Regions from separate parts of the Homo sapiens genome. Here region 2 is linked to region 1. The links come from fine-mapping of genetic effects on gene expression. A gene starts in region 1. The other region holds a variant in brackets. All regions are shown on one strand. Distances are from middle to middle. Region 1 holds the start of ABCC8 (ATP binding cassette subfamily C member 8). Region 2 overlaps ABCC8 (ATP binding cassette subfamily C member 8).

What was found. PIP is the estimated chance that this variant, and not a neighbour inherited with it, causes the effect. A credible set is the group of variants that fine-mapping cannot tell apart.
Region 2: its variant is the best candidate, but not a certain one, in a credible set for the expression of ABCC8 in anterior cingulate cortex (GTEx, PIP 0.55).

Annotation. Positions count from the first base shown.
Region 1 is chr11:17,471,943-17,480,265 of GRCh38, forward strand. It overlaps ABCC8 (ATP binding cassette subfamily C member 8), which reads right to left and starts at 4,903. Exons shown (of 39, transcript NM_000352.6): 1 at 4,687-4,903; 2 at 2,944-3,085. The coding sequence starts at 4,834. It overlaps LOC124902641 (a long non-coding RNA gene), which reads left to right and starts at 4,709. Exons shown (of 2, transcript XR_007062609.1): 1 at 4,709-4,789. RefSeq lists an enhancer at 3,559-4,115.
Region 2 is chr11:17,389,742-17,398,064 of GRCh38, forward strand. ABCC8 (ATP binding cassette subfamily C member 8) reads right to left here. Exons shown (of 39, transcript NM_000352.6): 31 at 7,943-8,056; 32 at 7,452-7,572; 33 at 7,175-7,305; 34 at 6,111-6,189; 35 at 5,869-5,977; 36 at 5,431-5,534; 37 at 4,525-4,658; 38 at 3,956-4,018; 39 at 3,144-3,387. The coding sequence ends at 3,250. Among named protein-coding and RNA genes, the nearest start is that of KCNJ11, 5.2 kb to the left of the region's middle. The variant AG/A (reference allele first, on the strand shown) is at 3,489.

The DNA of each region.
Region 1 (8,323 bases):
GAGCAGTCATGAATGGCAACACTGGGCACAGCCAACACCCTTCCTGGGGATCTTCAAAACTCTTGCCTCTTTACTCCTTGAAATAATTTTGAAACACCCTCTACTCTCTCACACATTTTTAAGCTGACATCTAGACATGTTTTATTATATGCTGATATAAATGCTTTTTTTTGCAATAGGAGGTAGAAATGTTAAAATTTTATAAGACGAAATAAGATGAGGATTAACCATAATTGAACTAAATATTTCATGACATGGCTTCATAGAATAGTTTTTAGCTGCTTTGTTAAATAATACACATTCAATTAGTTAAGAAATTAGGTAAAGTTTTATATACAGGCTTTATCCAGTGTATGGTGGTCTGGGAAAATATTGTAGTTATTAAAAAATATCTTCTTCACTAACTTATACTGTTTTGATTGTTCTGAATTCAGAACATCACAGAAAGAAATAATACCCAAAGGAAGAGGGGAAGCCCTACAGGTTTAAGATGGCTTAATTAGTCACTAAATGAGGCTCACTCTAAATCAAATCAGGGCTGCCTTAATCAGCCCCCTCCCACCTGCCCCCTAAATTTCCAGACAGCTCTGAAAACCCAGGCTGGATTAGACTGGAGGTATCACAAGGGTCTGTGACTTCTCCTGTCTGCTCTTTTCCTGCCCCTCACTCAGGCCTGGGGGTAGGAGCTCACAAAGACCAGATGACAATTACTCAGCTTGAGCTGATCTGTGCCCTGGGGAGGAGATGGCCCTTTGCACTGAGCTGAAGCAGTACAGCCACACACAGGAGGGGCTGCTGACAGCCAGCAGGAGGGCATCCCTGGACCGATTCATTCCAGTTTCCCACATTCTGGGAATACACAGTCTACCCAGTGCTCTGCCACTCCGGGCTCTGCACCCTGTCCATGCTCGAATTTCACCCTCCACAGCCCCATGAAGCAGGCAAGCCAGGGACTATGATGCTTGTTTCATAAGGCCAGAGAGCAGTCATGAATGGCCACACTGGGAACAGCCAACACCCTGCCCAGGGATCTTCAAAACTCTTGCCTCTTTACTCCTTGAAATAATTTTGAAACACCTTATACTTTCTCACACATTTTTAAGTTGGCAACTAAAATGTTTTATCGTATGTTTATAAATGCTTATGAGGCCCAGAAAGCCTGAATGACTTGTGCAAAGTCCCATAGCTGGTACACAGCAGCAGTGCTCACTGAAGACCCAGGTCTTCCTTCTCCAAGGGCGGAGGTGTCTTTCTCTGTCACCATCTGGTGAGTATTTCCCATCTGAGGGCTCACTGTGGCATTTGTGCTACTTTGGAAGGGGTGTAGGGGTGGGGGTGGAGGCGGACTTGTCACGTGCTTGTGTAGCAGTATGCCTTCTGGTCTTCTTGCTGGTCTAGGGACTTTAATAAGCAGGCAGAGCTGCTGCCTCCAAGTCAAGCAGGTATTTTAGAGATCACTGCTGAAGCCAGGATGCAGGGACATTGGGGAAGGGAAGGTGGGGAACGGGAGGGAGGATGAGGGAGCCTATCCCCTGCCATCCAACTACAGGAGCCAGGCAGCACTGCAGGAGTGCAGTCTGGGTATAATCTGATTCCAGCTCAGGGGGCGCTGGACCTCAGATACTCAAGCCAAATATCCCTCTCCTCCACCACTCCCTCTCCTGGCAGTCTCTCATCCTTGCTGGTTACTGGATTCTTCCTTAGTGAGATGGCTGCTCCCGCTCCTCTTCTGTCCCTGACTGCTGACACACCATTTCTGTCTGCAGTTATTGCTCACCTAGACTACTGCAGTCAATGCTAAGTCCTGCTTCTATTATACCTCTAGATTCTCCCTGCCTCCAGCCTGCGCTGAACACCTCAGGTTCCCACCTAAAAGTGTTATGCTGATGACATCTCTCTTCTGTTCCAAACTGCTGACCAAATCCGACCCAAACATGCAGGCTGGGATTCACAGTCCTCCTGAGATGCCCCAACCTGGGTTCCCAGCCTCAGCCTCCATCGCTCCCCAGCCTGTGTTTAATGCTCCAGCCCCTGCGCTGCTCCCTAGCCCTACCTGCTTTTCTCTTTGGTGCCTTTTCCCTTCCCTCAGGCACCACCAGTTCTCTCTCTCCTTCCTCCTCTGTGTGTCTGAAGCCTAGTCACCCTTCCAGACTCCGCTCCAAAGCCCTCTCAACCATGGAGCTTGCCCAATTCTGCCTTCCTCTCACCTCCCAGAGTACTTATTTGTAACATGGTTTCATTCATTCTCCTAAGGACCCAATAAATGTTTATGGACTGAATAATGTTTATGTTTATCACATGCCTTGCACTGTGAACACAAAGATGAACAAGACTCAGATTCTAACTCTTAGGCCTTTCTGACTCTGAAGACAGTTTTGCAAATAGACATAAACTTTAACATACAGTGTGATCTGTGCTGTAGCAGAGGTGTGAGGAGTGTGCTGTGAGGCCCAAACGGAAGGTGGGCATGGGGAATGAGGCCAGAGATAGGTGGGGCTGACTGTGAAGACCTTGAATGGTGGGCTGAGGATCTGAGACCACATCTTCAAAACAGCTGAGAACCAAGGAAAGGTCTTATGCAAGAGTGGGTGGCATGGTTAGATTTTTTTTTTTTTCCAAGAAGGTAACTCCGGCAGGTTGTAGAAGAGGCCAGACATTTTTCACTGGAGTTGTGGCATTCTAATAGGCTCTAGCATTATTTCACTGGGACTTGGCATGCAGGTCCGTGTTCCCTCTGCTCTCCTGGACTGATGGCAGGGCCTGGGACTCACTTGCGTCCAGTGCCCAGCTCAGAGAGGTTGGCACATAGAAGACACTGAGCTGCTGGATGTAGTAACAAAAGACATGGGCTTGTGGAATATAGGTGAGCTAGGATCTCCTTGGGCCTTTCAGGAAGTACCCTGGAGCAGATTCACTTTCCTGAGTCCTCAGACAGTCACTCACCCATCAGACAGGATGCCCTCTGCAATCTCACACACCAGGACGAAGAGCAGCATGAAGGTCAGGATCCACCGCAGGTTGTGCCCAGGGAAATGAAGCCATGTGCTGTGGTGGATGTGCACCTTGGAGCTCTGACTTCCCCATCCTGCAGGGAGAGACAGTCAGAGGCAGGATGCCTGCCCACTTGGAGGAGGAAGAGGGTGCATGAACCCCAGAAAGGTGCTTGGGCATTGGGTCCATGGTGAGGGTGACACCTACACATGAGGATCCCCAAGGCTGGTACACACAAACTAAACGTCCAACTCATTCAGCCTGGTCCTATGCTGGTACCTCCCCCACCACACCTTTTTACTGAGACAGGGTCTTGCTCTGTTGCCTCTGCTGGAGTGCAGTGCCACGATCACGGCTCACTACAGCCTTGATCTCCTAGGCTCAAGTGATCCTCCCGCCTCAGCCTCCTGAGTAGCTGGGACTACAGGCGCACATCACCATGCTCAGCTAATTTTTAATTTTTTGTAGAAAGGGCGGGGGGGGTCTCACTATGTTGCCCAGGCTGGTCTCGAACTCCTGGACTCAAGCAGTCTTCCTGTCACAGCCCACCAAAATGCTGAGATTACAGATGTAAGCCACTGTGCCCTGCCAAGGTACCCCATTATACATACTAACTTCTTGTGTGACAAGTCATCAGGTTAATAAACCGTTTGGCTGAGAACAGAAGTGTAAATGCTGTTCTTTTTTGATTTTTGATGCACATATGAGCACATATTTTGTATGTTTTATTTCTATTTCTATCTAACTGTCTTTGTTAATAACTAGCAACTCTGCTTCTGCAGCAACCTCTTGTAAATCTAATTTTGTGACAATCTTTCCTTTCTTCCCCAAAGCTGTATATGAATTTTAAGATTTGCTTGTTTTCTTAAAGTGAATGAACACGTTTTGGGGATGCAGGGGACACCCTATGAGTTGATAGACTTGACTGGTCTGGAAGAGTCAAGGTCTTGGAGAGAGATGGGGGGGACCTCAGTGGAGAGGCACGCACGATTGTCCCGGCCGTGGCGCCCAACTTTGCAAGCAAGGGCGCCGGGGTCGCTGCGTCGGCGAGTCGGAGCTACTTTGCGCAGAGCCTGAGAAGTTGCGCTCTGGAGACACATGCCCGGGTGGGGTGGCGGGGGAAGGGAATCCAAGTCCCTAGCTCTCGCCTCTCCTCGCCCAGGGCGCGGGCCTGGGACTGTCAGAGATCACGGACCACTGCGCGGCTCAGCCCGGTGAAAGCATAGGGGTTAGCTGGGCCTCCATCCCAGACTCCAAAGCACAGGCTTCCCTCTTCCCTAGGCCCAGCTGCGGCTGACAGGGAGGCTGCCTTGCGGGAGGGGTGACCCGGCTCCCTAAGCTGCGCCACGGAGGGTGAGGCCCGACCCCTCTCCAGTTTCCCACTGCGTGCTGAGACCTCCTCTTTCCCTTTTCCCCATCCCAGCTCTTGGCCCTGCAGAAGCAAAACTTGGTGATCCCATGGGTCACAAACGTCCGCTGTGTTTGGCGCGGGATCGGGGGCACCGGGGGAGTGAAGGGATGAGCTGGTGTGCGAGTGCGGGGACCGGCGGGCAGGACACAGGGCAGGGGACCCCGGGAACGAGGCGGACGGCGGTCGCGGGCCGGAAGGGGACGCCGAGCGGTGCGGCGCGCAGCGCCTCCTCCTCCCTCCCTGCTCTCCCGTCCCCTCCTCCGCGGCTCGCTGCGCGCACTCACCAATGAAGAGGATGGGGAAGGTGATGAAGAGTAGGAAGACGTGCGGCACCACGTTGAGCGCGTCCACAAAGCAGCCGTTGTTGAGGACCCCCTGGTCCACCCGGTAGGCGGCCGAGTGGTTCTCGCTGCCGCAGAAGGCCAGGGGCATGGCGGCGCGGGCGCGGGCTGGGCTCGGGCTCAGCTGGCTCCGCTGGCTCCGCGCGCCTGCCGCGCCTCTGTCCCTTGCAGCTCCGCCGCCCGGCCCGGCCGTCAGGCCCCCGCCCCCCGGGCCCCGCCCAGCCCCGCTGGCCTCCCCCTCCCTCACCCCGCCCTGCTCCACCACCTGCGGGGCCGGGGGGCGGCGAGGAACCCGACCGGCCCTGCTACGCTTGCGCCCACCTTCCAGATGTGGAGGCGCGTGCTCCCAGATGTTGCCGGGGTGGCTTCGTGAGTGCCCTGATGCACGCGTGCGCTGGGGGAGAGGGGAAAGGCAGGCTAAGATGGGGAGTGGGGTGTGGGCACACTGGAGTCTGGGTGGGAAAGGAGGGTGGGGCGTGCAGAAGAGGAGAGAAGGGCCCGCAAGGCCTGGAGTGGGCGGGTTCAGGGTCCCGAGTGTGAGTTCACCTGGGCGTGGTGCGGATGGATGTAGAGAGCCGAGGGATGGCGCAAGTCTCCACCCAACATGGATGAGAAAAGTGGGGCAGAACGTTACCTTGTGGTGGTGGTGGTGGTGGGGTGGGGCTTGGACATTTTCAAAAGTGGTCCCAGGTGGGGCACTCCTAGGTACTGCTTTACAGCGTATCTGGCACTTTCACACAAGGGATGTCCCAGAACTCTTGCTAAGTACAGGTTCTAATCGCTTCCAATTTTCTGATGGGGAAACCCAAGCTGCGAGGGAGCTGAAGGGAGGCCAGTAACATGACTTCCCCCAAGGTCTCAGTGCCAGCAAGCAGGGAAGCATAGCTTGAACCCAGCTCCTCAGGTCCCCCGTCCCCACCCCCATCATTTGTACTCATGCCTCTGGTACATGACAACCTTACAGCGACTGGCAGACCAATGGGTAGAATGGGTGACAGCCCCAGGCTGATAAAGAGGAGTTTAAGAAACGCATCTGGCCAGATGGATGTGAGGCAGTGGAGAGGGACTGAAATTCTTAACCTCACCTGGGACAGGCTTAACAGTTGGAGGACACCGTGCAATTGTAAAGACAACATTATGTCTTCCTATACGTTTTGGAGAGATTCTCACAAGACTGTGGCCCAAAGAAGTTTATATTGTATGTAGAAAGAACAGAAGATGGGATTTGGGGGTTAGATTTAAGGAGAACTTTCCTAGTTAGGGTATGAAGCATAAATGCACATGTTCTTAGGAACAGTCAGGGGAACACAAAAGAAAGACCCCTTCAGCCCCTTTGCCTACAAGCTTCACTGAGCCTGCCCTGAGGCTGCTGAGCCTGGTGAGCCTCTCCAGCACGCTGTCAGCAAGGCCGAGGCTCTGCCCAGGCCCTGAGGCAGAGGGCAGATGGGGTTGGGTGAAAAGCCTTGGGAAAGCAGGAGTTCAGGGTCTGAATGCCTCAGTCTCTGACTTTGGAGAATTTCTCAGAAGCCAAAAGATGTTTCTTGCAGCATCAGCCAAAATAGTGAAAACTTGGTGGCAAGAAATATCCAGCACCAGGGACAGGGGTTAATCAACCTTGAAAAATGCAACTGCTGGGACGGTGCTAGCTGAGTCTGTGTAGTCAATAGAAAAACTTTACAAGATAGTGTCAGGTGAAAAACGGCAAACAAAATTGTGCTTCCCATGATTATAGCCGTACGAAATATGTATACTTGCATGAAGCCTGCAGGGAAAGGTCAGACTTGGAAATTTGGTAAGGCGGTGCTCAGTATGTACTGGCTGCCGTCGCTGTGCTTATCCTCATTCCCTTTCTTTAAAAATGAGACAACTGAGGTTCAGAGAGATGAGATGACAGGTCCATGGTCACCCAGTAAGATTTTTTCTTTTAGTTTGTTTTTCTTGCTTTCAAGGTTTTTTTTTTTCATATTTTCTGCAATGTTGTTATTTTCTTTTGTAGTTACAATTTCAGTTTTTTCACACTTTCAGCAATGCTATCTTTCTTTTTAGCAGTAATAATATATTTACTTTTAAAGAACAGGGCTCCTAGTCCTGGCTCTACTACTACTAGTTGTGTGATTTGGGGGCAGGTTACCATTCTGCACTTCAGTTTCCTTATTTCTAAATGGAAAAGATAATAATATGGAACCCAGAAGATTAAGATGAGATCATGGGTATGAATGTGCTTTGCAAGTTGGGGAGATAGTCCAAGCTACTTCATCCCATGGGTGACTACACACGGCAGCCCCTTGATCAATCAGGGTTATTTAATGGTCTCTCCCTCACCCCACATTGCCTGGTGCAACCCTCACACTTGCCTATTCTGGGTCATTTGAAACAAACAAAAAGTCTGGTGTTAAGGGAGCATCAACTGGGACTAAGAGAGTGTTAAGTCTGGAGTCTTGGGGACTCGTGTTTGCCATCTCTAGCACAAACTTACTGTGTGACTGTGGACAAATTCCACCTTTCCCTGCACCTAGGTCTACACTGAGGACATGCACCACACTGCCCACCATGTGGGTGGGAGAATTACTTTGAAAAAGTGTGGAGTCAGGTGCGCACGGAGGCATGAAAGGACTTCCTTTGTAGTATATGGGTTGTATTCCTGGAATCAACCCAAATGCTCATCAGTATGGGGCTGGTTCAAACAGACAAAACCCAAACAGACAAAAAACAGATATTGTCTGTACTGTGGGATACTGTGGAGCAAGCGCAGAGAATAGAGTTATGCTTACTGGCAGGGGAAGATGTCCAAGACACAGACGCAGAGCGGTGTGTGGCATACAAAATCATTCATGTCTGTAACAGGGCTACGTCTGCCTCTGTCGGGGAGATGCTGGGTCTCTGGTGCTTCCCCACCTCTAGCCATGCCTTTTGTTTCTCTTGCTAGGGGCTGGAAGAAGGTCAGACTCTGAGAGCTTGCTTTGAGCAAGGGTACCCCGCTCTGAGAATTCCCAGCCATTCTCCTGGCAAAATGAAAACTAGGGCTGGATTTCCGGGATTGGATTCTCACACTCACCGGCTACTGGGTGGGTGTGGCCTCAGGCAGGGTGCAGTAAAGGGGCTGGTGCAGAGCTTCAGAAAAGTCCTTTCCAGATCCCTTGAGCCAGGGAGGTTAAGGCTGCCGTGAGCCATGATCGGGCCACTGCACTCCAGCCTGGGCGACAGAGAGAGACCCTGTCTCAAAACAAAACAAAACAAAACAAACAAACAAAAAGTCCCTTCCAGCTCTGATGTTGTTCTGGCCTTAGTGCCTTTGTCTCTATCTGGCTGACTAGGAGTGCCAGTGTTCCAGTGACCATGGCAGAGGGGGTCATTACAATGACAATGGTGACGTAATGGAGTGGGGTTATAGTTGAAGAAATAAACCCTTTCAATAACCACAATCAACAGCGGCCTGGTTAAAAACAGACAAAAGCAAAACTCATGGTGTGACCTATACTATGGAATAGTGGAGAACAAGTACAGAGCCTAAGTTCGGGTGACCCTTACTGACTGGGAAAGGTGTGTCCTTTCCTGTCTCCTTCAGGTGCTCAAAGCCTGT
Region 2 (8,323 bases), 82 kb before region 1:
GGACTTCTCAACCTGCAGCTGCTTCTCTTTGGGGGATGCTCTTAATCTTAGTCTTGAATCCTTTGACAATCTGATGGAAGCTCAGACTCCCTCTCATTAAAAAAAAAAAAAAAAAAAAAAAAAAAAAAGGCCTCGGCAGGAAAGGAGCACAGTTTAACACCTGCTACTGCTGTGGGGCAGCCTGGGCGGCTCCATCTTCTCAGCCATTCCGGCCCTACTTTAAAGAAGGTTTGAGCCGAGGCCACTTGCTTTACACTTTCTCACACCTGTCACCTGACTTCTTCCACGTTAGGTCATGGGTGGTATTTAGGCCTGAACAGTGTGTTAGGGCTGCCTCGGGCACTGGGGGACCCAGGCTCTTGGTCCCGGCATGGTGGTGTTTCTGTTCAGGCATCAGCCTGAGGCTGCCCTGTGGCATGGACCCGGGTTCTCAGCTGGGAGGGAAAGCCTGCTAGATCTCTGTTGTTGGAACAGTAACGGCTTTACCGCTGTCTGTGGCTCAGATCCTTATGGAAGAACCCCTGACCATCTGCGGCCATTTTGTTGGAGTGGGGGCTTGAGACAGGGTCTGGAAAAGGCAGTGTGGCTGTGGGCCACAGTGGGGGCAAGATATGCATTTTATATTGGATTTTCCTTTCTCTCCCTACCCACCTGCAGGCAGAGCGAACACCGCTACAAAGGATGGGTGTGATCATGGGCTATATTAACAAAGATGCAGTGTCTAGGAAGGGGAGGGTAAAATGAGATGAGCAGAGTGGGAAGCTCAAGGAGACAGGGTTACATGGGGAAATCTCTGAGGCAACTACAACTGTCCAGCCATCAGAAAAGGAAAGTCCCCCAGGGATTTGGGCACTATTGCAGAAACACCTGGCCTTGAAGGAGGATGAACTAGTAGTTTTTTGTGGCCCAAAGGGTAGAACCAGGACACTAAGTGGAACAGAGGCAGGCTTTGGTTTCACATATGCAAGAGTCAGTTCTAATAACAATAACCAGAGATGAGCCACATCTGTGGGGTACCCAAATCAAGTCGGTGGGCCATGAGGGATGTTATACAGGGATTTTGGGCCAGGATGACCTTGGGCATCCCTGCAACACCTCACTGTGGGCCCAGCCCTGCCCCTGCTACTTCCCTTCAATCTGTTGAGGTGGGGTGGCTTTGGAGCAGTGGTAGGCTTGTGGAGTCCTCTTTCAGTTCCCCGGCTCTGCTCTTGGGAGATCTCACAGTGGAGGAAGCTGCTGGGCCCCTGGGGAAATCTCAGAGCTGGAAAGGCTGGGTTCTGCCTCCTGGTGCAGCCTTGAGGCCTTACCTCCCTCCCTGCTGCTCACCCTTCTGAGAGGCTGAGTCTCCCACCTGAAAGGCTCAGCCTCCCCTTTTGCTCCATCCTGCACTTGCTTATAGTCATCTCCACCAAATACTGAACTTGTCAAGTCGCTTTCTTGCTCAAAACCCTTCTCCCTTTTTGTCCATGGGCATAGCCCACACTCCTTGCTCTGGCATTCAGGGCTCTCTGATATGATGCCCTCCCCACTGCTGTAATCTCTCTCCCACCTCCCTGATCAACCAACACTCTTAACACACTTCCACCATCACTCCTTAGCTCCTGCTGTCCCTACCTGCCACCCCAACCCTTTCTCTGACTTTCTGCCTAACCAATCCCTATCCCCCACAATATTTAACTCAAATTTTGTCTTTTCCAGGCAGGCTGCCAGGCTTTACAGAGCTCTTCCTTTCCGAGCTTCTCTGGCTCCTGGAACATCCACAGGGGTCTGCACTGGACCTGCCTCCGATAACTGGTGGGCTTTTCTTATGTTGTGCCTCTATGATCCCCTTGCAGCCAAGAGGATGCAGGTTCAAGACTCTTAGGTCTGCACCTCAGGGCTTGGTGCAGCCAGTACTGCAGATGATATGCAAATGATCATAAAATGAGATGTAAATGAGCACCTGCCATTTCTTGGCCAAGGGCAGGTGTGCACTCTTGTTTCGTGATGCAGAGGAAGTCAGGACAGCTGCTGTTTTAGTCTCCCTGGTGTCTGGGCTCCAGCGTCTCCCAGACACCACCTGGCTGACCTGTGACTCATGCACTGTGCTTTCCCTCTGAAGGACCACCTTTCCACTTCTGAATGCCCCTGCTTGAGGGATGGAGATGGAGACATGATCCAGGCCTAGCCAGCCAGTGTATGCCACCCCTCTGATCACAGTGGGGTGGGGATGGGAATGTGATCCAAGTTGGTGCATTGAGATTTGCTCCCAAGCTTTTGCTGGAACTATTGGGAAGGAGTATCTGTTTTGCCTCTTGGGTTGCCTTGGGGCAGGATGTAAGCTGGACCTGCTAGTGGCCATCTGTCATAATGAAAGGGGAGGAAAATGGAACCCAGAAAGGAAGACACATCCCAGATGGATGTCAAACACCTGGGTCCAGCCATGCTTGAAGTAGTATACCTCTTAGCCTTGTCAGTCACATATTCAATAAATTCAGTTTCTGCTTAGGTTACTTTGAATTGGGTTCCTGTCATTTGCAATTGAAATAGTGTTAATCCAGATTTTAATTCAAGAATGAAAGTGAGAAGAAAGGAGACCAAGCTGTATGGAGATCTGTTACCTTATCTGATAAGCTCATTGCAGAAATGCTATCACCCTTGCTATGGACATAATTGTGTCCTGCCAAATTCACAGGTTGAAGCCTAATCCTACAATGTAACTGTATTTGGAAACAGGGCCTGTGAGGAGATAATTAAGGTTTAATGAGGTAATAGGGGTGGGGCCCTAATCCAATATGACTGGTGTCCTTTTAAGACACAGAGAGAAAGCAGGGATGCATGTGCACAGAGTAAAGGTCATGTGAGCACACAGCCAGAAGGCAGCCCTCTGCAAGCCAAGGAGAGAGGCCTCAGGAGAAACCAAACCTGCCAACACCTTGATCCCAGACTTCAGCCTCCAGAACTGTGAGAAAAAAGTCTGTTTTAAAGCCACCCAGTCTGTGATATGTTGTTGTGGCAGCCTGGCTGACTAATAGAGGCCTCATTTCACAGGTAAGGAAGCAGGCTTTTGCTCACACAGCTTCTGCCTGATGTCAGAGCCAGGCTGGTTCTACTGAACCCACCATCCACCGCCAGCCCCTGCCCACCAGACTTAGGGCCTCTAGTAGGAAATAATCAAATCTATTTATTTACAAGTGATTTACAGTTAGAAAACCCAGGCAGGGGTATGGGCAGGGTCCGAATGTGGGATGGCACTTGGGCTCTGGCAGGTCACTTGTCTGCACGGACGAAGGAGGCGAAGACGCTGTCCTTCCGGCTGAGCAGCTTCTCTGGCTTATCGAACTCAAGGATGGCACCCCGCTTCAGGACGATCACCAGGTCTGCACTCAGGATGGTGTGCACTCGATGCTGGGCAGGGCAGGAGGGGGCGGGTCAGGATGGTGGGAATACCACCCGCGGTGGGGGCCACAGCTGAGGGTGGCCCTCCTGCGGCTTGGAGGAGGAGGATG[AG/A]GCATGTGGCCAGAATGTCCTGTCACTGTGGGGACTGCACTTTCCTGGGGTGGATGTGACTACAAGCTCTCCATCTGCTAATACCACCCTTCTCTCCTCTCCAAGTCCCAACTCTACCCCACCTCCAGGCTTCAAGGCTCAGAGACCCTCCACAACCCCTCCCCCACTTCCTATGGAGAAGTAACGCCAGCCTAACATATAAGGCCTTGGGACAGGGGCAGGCCTTGGAACCTGGAGAAGGAGAGGGGAGGTCTGAGGGAAGCACAGGGGCAAAACCCCCCACCCCAAATCCTGCAACCCAGGCTCCCTGCATGCCCTCCAGGCCCCTTGCCCTGAACTGCCTGCTTCAGGGTTCTTTCTTGATTACTGGGACCAGGCAAGCCCAGGGGCTGTGCACTGATGACGGCCACAACAGGCCAGTCCTGTCCCTGGGTGTCCCTCTGCACCCCATCAATGGGCCCCTTACCGCGATGGTGACCACAGTGCGGTCTGCGAAGGCTGTCATCACCACCTTTTGGAGGATGTTTTCCTGCCAAGTGGGGGCAACAGCTGTTGGCTCACCTGCCCAGTGGATGGGGTCTGGCCTGGCTTGGGGGATGTGGAGCCCAGGTCTGTGGCTCAGCTCCCATCTGACCCCGATCCTAGTCCCACCCCCACCCCACAGGACTGAACAGGTTCCCGGCACTCAGGGACTGGACTCAGCCTGTTGGGAGCTCAGCTCTGTGTGTGTATGTAGGTTGTGGTTGTGGCTGTGTGTGTGCTGTTGTGATAGGTGACAGTGTGAAGTCTGTGTGGGTCTGTGTGTGCAGCTTATGTGTGTGTTTGCATAGTGTTTTTGTGTGTGCGTGTGTGTGTGTAACATTCCCTAAGACTAGACAGAGTCAGGGTCCCCCCAGCTCTTTTCATTTTCTGCAACACATAGCATTTGATGTTAGAGGCAACTTGAGCCTCAGGACTACTTCGTGCAAATTTCTCCCTAGCATCCCACTAAACCCTTTCCAAGACCATGGTCCCATGGAGGGGCCCAGGACCAACCGTGGCCATGTCAATGGAAGCCGTGGCCTCGTCCATGATGAAGATGCTGGTCTTCCTCACGAAGGCCCGGGCCAGGCAGAACAGCTGCCTCTGTCCCTGGCTGAAATTCTCCCCGCCTTCTGTGATGATGGCATCTGAAAACAGCCCGGGGAGATGAAGTAGGACTGAGTTAATCTTGTGCTGTGAGTGGAGCAGATGGGATGGCTTGGGGGGCTGTTGGAAAATGTGTGCATGGGGGCAAATAGGTGGGTGTGTGTCCAAGAGCACAGGCGTGTGCAGGGCTGGTGCACCTGACACAACAATGTGGAGGCCGTCTGCAAGGACTGCAACGAGAAGGGCACCCCTGGAGGTGTGTGCTGCTGTGGCCCTGGGCAGTTCTGGGAGGGGGCGTGTGCACTGAGGGGTGCACTGAGTGTGTATGTAGGGCCTTGGTAGGGTGATTCATTGAAACCAAGGCTTGGCCACCCCCAATGCTCCAGGAGCTGCAGCAAATATACCAAGGCTTTGCCAATCACCGGTGGCCTTGATGAGTGACCCGTGTCTATGATTGCCCAGTCCATCTTCTCCTCCCCTAAGGCAGAACTGGGCATGCAGGTGGATGGGGCAGGGCAGGGCTGAAGATGCCCCCTTGGCATGGGGGACTCGCAATCTCTGTCTCACAAGGATCCCTGACTGTACCCGCTGTACCCTGCAGGAGGAGCCAGACCCTGAACTGACCAGTTGTGTGACCTGGGGCAAGACACCTGACCTCTCTGGGCCCCCGTATAGTGAGAAGTAGGACTAAATGGTCCTGCCAGGCTTCAGACTCCAAACTTGGGGCAAACCTGAGACACGGGCTTCTGTCTGCCATCCTTACAGGGTCCTTGAGTGCCCAACCAACCCAGCTGCATAGCCAGGAGTAGTTACCGAGGCCTCCTGGCAGTGCCTTCACCACCAGCTTCAGCTGGGCGATTTCCAGGGCCTCCCACAGTGTGCTATCTGAGCACTTCCTCTCAGGGTCCAGGTTAAATCTGGAAGTGGCACAGAAAGCCCCAGTAGGGAGGGAGCAGGGTCCTGCCTGCATCCCCAGGCGGCAAAGAGGGCAGTGAGCGAGAGCAGACTGAGTTGGAGGTCTGGCTGGGAGAAGCACCGAGGTGGTGGCAGTGGGTGGGGGACAGCATCTTAGACCCATGGGTGGGGGATCCCCTTCCAGAGGCTGCCTGGGCCTGATGGGATGGAGAAGGGCATGAGCAGGAAACACCTCTGGGATCCTGGTCTCCCCCAACCCCCTCCTCTTTGTGCTCCAGATCTGATGGAACTGAGCCGGCCTGGGGCTGGGTGGGCCTGAGGGGTGGTGGGGCTCACCGGATGGTGCCGCTGAAGAGGACGGGGTCCTGCAGGATGATGGAGAGGCGTGAGCGCAGGGTGTGCAGCGGCAGTTTGGCGATGTCAATGCCATCAATGATGATGTGCCCTGCATGGGTCCCAGTGAGGGTGCAGGGGAAGGCGGTGACTGCTGGGCCTCCTGTCATGTCTGACCACGTGCCAGGGCTGAGGCCTCATCTGGTGGCTGTGGGTACACGTGGGGTGCCCGCCTTACAACTCACCTTCGAACGTGTCCACCATGCGGAAGAAGGCAAGAGAGAAGGAGGACTTCCCACTGCCGGTGCGGCCGCAGATCCCGATCTGGAAAGAGAGAAGCAGGCACCGCCACTGGGACTCTGGGGCTGCTGGGAATAGCCTCTATGCTAGCTCTGGGTGTGTGTGCAGGTGTGGGAGGTCACAGGGTATCTTTTTGGCCTGGTTTTCTGACTAGTTTCTCTTTGGACACCACAGGTTTGGGCTTGTTTCCTGCAGTGGGTCCAGAGAGGGCTTACACAGGGACCGGCACGCAAGTGCAGGCATGGATGTCCATTTGCCTGGGCCTTGGTGTGGGTCTGGGTGTGCCGGGTACTTGGCTGAAGGAGAGCTGGGGGGCAGTGGTGTGTCTCTATGGGCATGGGTGTGGCAGGAGGACACAGGGGCAGCTGAGAGTGGTATGCATGGATGTGTCTGTGTGCCCCGCCCTACAATGGAGCCACCTCTGATCCCGTTGCTTCCTGGCACTTGGGTACCAACAGAAATTACAATACGGAGACAGATAGTGACATAGAAGGATGAGAGAGGCAGGGACAGAGGTACATCCCAAGGTCAGAGAATGACATGGACAGCCACAGCAAAGTGAGACAGAGACAAAGAGACAGAGTGGGAAACGAGAGGAGAGCTGGGCCAGGGCCATAGGCAGGGGCTCACCCTCAATACAAGGGTGGCCTCGCTGTCTGCCCCCAGGTCCCTGCCCTGAAGCTCGGGGCAGTGCCCTAGGGAAAGCCCCTGACCATTCGCAGAGAGGGAGGCCCTGACAAAGCCCGTGTGAGCTGGGGGAGTCCAGAGTGTCGGTCTCCTTGGTGGATGAGTGAGAAGACAAGGCCTGAGGGCAGCACTGGGGGAAGGCAATAGAAGGAGAGGAAAGATGGGCCCCCACAGGCCCAGGGCAGGAGACTGCGATGTCTGAATAGTGAGAGGCCTCGGCCCTGGAGGGCCACGAGGTGACTGCGAAGCCATCCAGCTCCGTGCATGCCCCATCCCCTGCTCACGCCTGTCCTGCAGCATTGGGTTGGGCCCGTGCTCTGACCTTCTGTCCAGGGGCGATGAGGGCATTGACGTGCTTCAGCACCGGCTTCAGGGAGCTGTCGTAGCGCACGCTCAGGTTCTGGATCTGGATCTTCCCTTGGTCTGGCCAGTTCTTTGGGATCAGCGATGGTGCTGGGGGCCGGGCTGGGCTCAGCCACCAGGCATGGGCCACAGCTAGTATCCGAAAGTGCCACCCCATCCCCAGGCTCCCTTGTGGCCCCCAACCCAGACACACTCCTCCTTGGACTCTTCCCCACCCCTCTCCCTGAGCCTCTCACCCAGGAGCCCCTCGTAGCTCTCTGCCTCGGTTTTCAGGAGCCCATGGATGCGCTTCACAGCCCCCAGCTGGAGCTCCATGTCTGCCAGGTTCCTCACCATCCAGTTGAGGTAGTTGGAGACCTGTGGGGAGCAAGCCAGTGGCGCACACTCCATGGTCGCTTAGTTCTGTCCTCAGCCACCAGAATGGCTCTTCTTAAGGCTGGAGAGGGGCCAGGGCCCCAGATTCCTTTTGCTGCCATCCACTGCCTGCTCAGAGCAGCCCTCCCTGGAGGCACAGGGAGGGTCAGTCATGTGGCTCCCCAACCTCCACCTGTCTGGGGCCTGGGCCCTGGGGCCTGCTGGTCAGCCTTCCTGCCCGCACTGTCCCTCTGGCATCAGATGCAAATGAAATTGGGGTAAGGCCTGGGAGTGTCTCATGTCTCCAGTGACGAAGGTGCTCCGGGAGTGCTGGTGTCTGACCCCTCCTCTGCCCTAGCCCACTGCCGCTCACCATTAGGGCGTAGGTAAGGCCCAGGCCCACCAGGCCAGCAGAGAGCTCCCTGTGCAGGGAGTTGGAGATGGAGGTCACCGCTGCGATGAGCACCACACATGCACCGATGTACTCCTGGGGAGGGAGAGGAGCTGACCTGGGCGCTCAGGGGTTAGAGCCACAGGCCCCTGTTCTACCTCACTCCTTTTCGGGGCAGAGAGCAGCTCAGCCAGGCCTCCACTCCAGCCCTGCAACTCATGCACACGTCACCAGACACACACAAGGGCTGCGAAGGCTGGAGCCCCAGGAGCCAACATGTCCCACAAGCTCATGCTCCCCTACCCCCTAGCCCCTGCACACCCTTTAACATGCACGCCTCAGCTGGCCCACAAACACACACAA